Linked DNA regions of Homo sapiens: region 1 is linked to region 2. The links come from fine-mapping of genetic effects on gene expression. A gene starts in region 2. The other region holds a variant in brackets. All regions are shown on one strand. Distances are from middle to middle. Region 1 overlaps CLOCK (clock circadian regulator). Region 2 holds the start of LINC02928 (long intergenic non-protein coding RNA 2928).

Region 1 (2,921 bases), 100 kb before region 2:
TTTGTTTACTGGTTACTGCTTCACATAGAATAGCGTCTTTATTCATTTAGTACATATATTTATAATAACCATGTAAGTTAACAATCACTGGAAGTATTAGATTGAATAAAACTTGTGATTTGAATGCAGTTTTTCTTATTGGCATTTTCATAAAAACATGTTTGTCAAATGTATGATTTGTAAAATTTTCTTTAGTAATAAACTGAGCTGAAAAATTATTGCCCAAATTAACTGTATATTGGTAACCTGGAAGATATTTGTTACCATCTATGTTGATAGAAGTACATGCTGTGTCATGTCTAAATTAACATTGTATTAAACTACTTGTGTAATTAAATGGATTGTTTAAAAAATGCATATTTTTCATTTCATCAGAGTATCTAGAAACAAATCTGAAAAGAAACGTAGAGATCAATTTAATGTTCTCATTAAAGAACTGGGATCCATGCTTCCTGGTAATGCTAGAAAGATGGACAAATCTACTGTTCTGCAGAAAAGCATTGATTTTTTACGAAAACATAAAGGTAAATTTTTAACTCTGTAAAATGGAACAGACTCTCAAAGCATTAGTTAGAATCTTGGCAGAGATGCTTAAGATTGGATGCTTCCTTGGCTTTTTTAAGAGAGAGAAATCAATTGCATTTTAAAAGGTTTCCTAATATGTTCATTCTTTCATTCAACAAACATTTATTCCGTGCCTACTACATGCTAAATCCTCATGATGCAGGGTAACAGTCCTGGATTTGAAGTTAAGTCAAGCCAGGGCAGACAAACATGTAAGCACATAATTACAAATGTGAGTAGTGCTTGTAAACTGTTTGCAGCAAAAACACAGGAAAGAGTATGTCAGGGAGACTTTTAAAATAGTTGATTTTTCAACTGAGTCTTTTAGATTAAGGAAGACAGCATGTCACACAAAGGGAATATGTGCAAAAGCAGAGAGGCAGGGAGACTTCATTGTCACTGAAGCATGTTTGTGTTGGAAAATTATGGGTGTATTTGAAAGAAAGGAAAAAGCTGGATAGTATAAAGTTCTTATGTGTCATTTTAAAAGGTTTCAATGTATATCTAGTAAATCAACACTATAAAATAAAGTATTTGTTAATAGAAGAAAATCATCTTGACAAATGAGTCATGGAAAGAAAATTTAAAGAATAT[T/C]AAGTATTTTGGTAACAGATAATAATAGATTTAAAAAAAACCTGTAAAAGGAAATTTCCTTTTTCAAATGCAAATGAAACTGTAAAACTCAGGACAGTTAGTAATTAGTGCCTCTGTTTTACTTCTGCCTAGCTCAGTTGGTAATGCCTTACAGGACTGGTTTATGCTCCACCACTCGTTGAAAGTGTTTTTGTTAATTTCACTAATGACATTACCTTCCTATCCCTCAATAAAGCAATAGCTTTTTCTTATACCGCATCTTCTTCTGCATCTGTACAGCACTGGAAATTTTTATCCCTCCTCCCTTGGCTTCCCTTATATTGTACTTTCTCCTCCCCTTTTCTAACTGAAACTAACTTCTTTCCTCTCTTTCTACCCTCTAAATGTGACATTCCTAAGTCTTATCCTTGTTCTCTTGCTTTCTGTACACTCTTTCTCTTGCTTATCTCATTCCATAGCTTCAGCTATTGTGTCTCTATTAACCTACCAGATTTCTATTTTTAGATGCAAACATTTTAGCCATGTATTTCCAGATAACTTCTAGATCTTTCTTTTGCATGTCCTCAAACTCAGTGCATCTAAAATTGAATTTATTTTCATTTTGTCAAGTTACCTCTTTCTCTTAACTTGCCTTTTTTCATTTTTATACCACCATCCTTTTAGTCACCTAAGACTTAAACCTGAAAAAATTTTAGGATTTTTTTTCAGCTTCCTTAGCACCATATCACAGTTGCCAAATTCTGTTGATTCTTTCGTAAATGTGTCAATATTTATTGCCACCACTATTATTACATTTTACCTCTACAGATAGTATCTCACTAACCTCAGTGCCTATTGTTAAATGGCACACTCATTGAAACCAGTCCAAAGATACTAGGAGTTCAATAAATGGTTGTTGAATGAAATGAAATGCATATATTTCCCCGTCAATAGAGGATGAATTGTGGCATTAGGTAATTTTTTTTTTCAAAATCAGATACATAATTCTCACAAAAATAGTATTTCTGTTAAGGTAAAAGGATTTTATATATGTATCATCCTAAAATAGGCCTATGTTTAATGAAACTTGATTGGATTTGTTTGTGGATTTAAATCCTTTTCCCAAATGTATATAATTGATGTGAATTTGAAAAACACAACTGTATTCCGCACATTTAGTAGCTCTACTTCTTAGTTACTCTTCATATTCCACTACAGGCATTTCTAATATGCTAACTTTTGATGAGGGACAGTATGCTGTATTTCTCTATCTGATGATAAAATCAGAATTTAGTTTATACTTCTTACTACAAATTAGAGTATATTTTGTAGAATATAGTCTATGACATAGATTTTTATTCTGCCTGCTTGTTTTAATATGTCTACATTAAAAAATAGAAAAACATTTGTTACTAGGTTTCATCATTTATGAATAGCTTTTTCATAACTAAATCTATTAGAAGTATGTAGTGAAATAAAATGGTAATAATTGTGACAAACATATGTCCCACAGCAGGGATCTCCAAATTTTTCACCATCTCTCTACTGTTGTACAAGGAGGACACTAAGAAAAATCACTGTGGGAATATTACTGTAGTAAAGTTTTTGCATAAAATATTAATTTAGTCTCTTTGATTAATTAAGATAGAGCACTTAATGTTGGGAAGAAGCTTTTTGCCCAGCAGTAGGCAGGCCTAAGGCATTCTTTGTTGAAAGCAAACCTAGTGACCTCTTTGGCCTTTTTCAGCTAATTTCCCTAGTGCTGCTCTAGACATTGCTATTTG
Region 2 (2,921 bases):
GAGTCATACATTTAATAAATGTTGAGTGTCTACTATATATCAGGCACTTTACTAGTGCTGGGGATATATCTGCAAACAAAGCAATAAAAACAAACCCAAAAATTTTTGCCCTCATGTAGCTCACATTACATTGAGGAAACACAGGCAAAAAATAATGTACCTAAGTGTGTTGGAGGCCGAAAGATTGAGGGTAGTGATCAACTCAGTATACCACTGGAGGCTATATGAGTAAACAGCAAACTGTTCTCATAAACGCAGAATGTTGGCAAACTGACAAACTGCGTCTGCCACCAGAAGGAATGCTGAGGGCAGTCACGCCCCAAGCGCAGTGTTTCTTGTGATTAGGTACTTCTGAAGCCTGTTAGTAGTAATATGAACCTGTGATCGATTAAGCAGCTGACCAATCGTTACCTCCTCCTCCCTGCTCTTTCTACCCAATAAATAAGAAAGGCTGTGGAAACTCGGGGGCTGCCTTTGCTCACTAGAAGCGGGGAGTTCTCTTCTTCTTTCCTGATTCCCCTTCCTTTAAAATAGTTTCTTTTGTCTTAAGTTTACATTTCTGCGTCCGTCCCTTCCTTCAGTCTTGTAATGACGGTCTCAAGCAGTAGCAGTGGCAGTCAGTCACATAAGTGAAAAAGTACATTGTAGAGGTTTATTTCTACAGAACAAACCACCTCAAAACCAGGTGACTCAAAACAATAAGTATTTATTATTGCTCACCAGAGCAAAGGGAAAGGAAAATGGAAATGTGTGTATGATAGAGAGAGAACGAGGAAGAGAGAAGGAGAGGTACAAGGGGGTTGGGTTGCAATTTTAAATAAGGGGATCACCTTATTGAGAGGGCAGCTGTGGTATGCAGCCTCTTTGATGGTCCCCAATAGTCTGAATTTCCTGGACTTCCTTGAGTATCCTCTTTCTTTGAGTATAAGGCTGGACCTAGTAACTCCTTTCTAACAAAGAGAATATGGCAAAAGTGACAAGACAAAATTTCCAAGATTAAGTTATAATGAGATTGTCTTCCTTTGTGGATGCCCTTGCTTGCTTGCTCTGATGGAAGCTGGGTACCACGTTGTGAGATGCTTTATGGAGAAGTCCTTCCATAGAGGCAAGGAACTGAAGGAGGCCCCAGCCAATGAGGGGCCTTTTTTTTTTCTTCTTTTTCTTTCTTTCTTTTTTTTTTTTTTTTTTTTTTGAGACAGGGTCTCCCTCTGTTACGCAGGCGGGAGTGCAGTGGCACAATCTTGGCTCACTGCAACCTCTACCTCCTGGGCTCAAGAGATCCTCCCACCTCAGCCTCCCAAGTAGTTGGGACTACAGGTGCAAGCAACCACACCCGACTAATTTTTGTATTTTTTGTAGAGATGGGGTTTTGCCATGTTGCCCAGGCTGGTCTTGAACTCCTGAGCTCAGGCAATCCACCTGCCTTGGTCTCCGAAAGTGCTGAAATTACAGGTGTGAGCCACTGTGCCTGGCCTGGAACTAGGGCCTTTAGTTCAAGAGCCCATGGGGAACTGAATCCTGCTAACAACCATGTGAGTGCGCTTGAAGGTGGGTCCTCCCTCAGTAGAGCTTAAAGATGAGACAACAGCCCTGGGGACATCTTGACTGCAGAGAATCCTTGAGGCAGAGGCACCCAGCTAAGTTGTATCTGGAATTCTGACCCCAGAAACAATGAGATAATAGATGTTTGTTTTTAGCTCCTAAGACTTGGAGTACTTTGTTACACAGCAGTAAATAACTAATACAGTGATGTTTGAACAAAGACTTGAAGAAGCTGAGTGAGAAGGCCATGCAGATATCTTGGAGAAGTGCATTCCAGGCAGAGGAAAAGCCAGTGCAGAGACACTGAAGCAGGGCATGACTGATGTGTATAAGGAGCATCATATACATGATCATCTACAGTCCACTGAGGAGAATAGCAGACGAGGTAATGTGTGTGACTGGGAGCCACAACATACTGGGCCTAGTGGGTTAGTAGAAGAACTTCAGCCTTACTCCAAGAGAAATTGGCAGCTGTGTTGCAGGGTTTGGGACAGTAGTGGCATGATCTCATTTATGTTTGTGAAAGATCACTCTAGCTTGTGTTGAGAATTGTCTGTAAGGTATAAGGGGGAAAGCAGGGAGCTCACTTAGTCAGTTGCAATAATCTAGGCAAAAAATGAATGAAAATCACGATGGCAGTTTGTAGAAAGATGATAACAGAGGTAGATTCTGGACATGCTCTAACTGTAGACCCACTGATTTCTGGATTGTGAAAGAAAAAGAAGAGTCAAGGAAGACTCCATGGCTTTTGGTTTGAGTAAGTGAAAAAACAGGAAGAATGTAGGTGGATCAGGTGTGGGGAAGAGGAAAATCAGAAATTTACCTTTAATCATGTCAAACTTGAGAACAGCTAGTGCTTTTCAAGTCAAGTAGAGCTGTTAAGTAGGCAACTAGATATATGAGTCTAGAGGTCAGGGTGATGTCTGGGCTGAATATATAAATTTAGAAGTTGTCAGCATATAAATAGTATTTAAAGTTATGAGACTGGATGAGATCACCAAGTATTGATAAAGAAAGGGACCCAGGACTGAGAACTGGGGCAATTCAACATTCAGACATCAGGAAACAGAAGAGATCAGCAGAGGAACCTGGGAAGGAACAGCCAGGGAGGTAGGAGGAAAATCCACAGTGTAGTGTCTCAGAACCAATTAAAGAATGCATCTCAAATGAGGTAACCAACTGCTACCATGCTGGGATGAACACTGAGAAACAACTGTCGGGTTTAGCAGCATGGTCGTTGGAGACCTTTTCAAGAGCAGTTTAGTAAAGTTCTGAGAGCTAAAAAAAATAAAATAAAAATAAAAAAAGTGACTATAGGGTATTTAGCGGTGGGAGGGAAAGGACTGATGTTAGTAAGAATAGACTAATCTTTCTAGGAG

The links. PIP is the estimated chance that this variant, and not a neighbour inherited with it, causes the effect.
Region 1: its variant is fine-mapped to the expression of LINC02928 in whole blood (TOPMed, PIP above 0.99).

The regions. Positions count from the first base shown.
Region 1 is chr4:55,476,418-55,479,338 of GRCh38, reverse strand. CLOCK (clock circadian regulator) reads left to right here. Exons shown (of 23, transcript NM_004898.4): 6 at 376-524. Among named protein-coding and RNA genes, the nearest start is that of CLOCK, 69 kb to the left of the region's middle. The variant T/C (reference allele first, on the strand shown) is at 1,159.
Region 2 is chr4:55,376,613-55,379,533 of GRCh38, reverse strand. LINC02928 (long intergenic non-protein coding RNA 2928) reads right to left here and starts at 1,740. Exons shown (of 3, transcript XR_941060.4): 1 at 831-1,740. SRD5A3-AS1 (SRD5A3 antisense RNA 1) reads left to right here. Exons shown (of 4, transcript NR_037969.1): 2 at 1,764-1,927.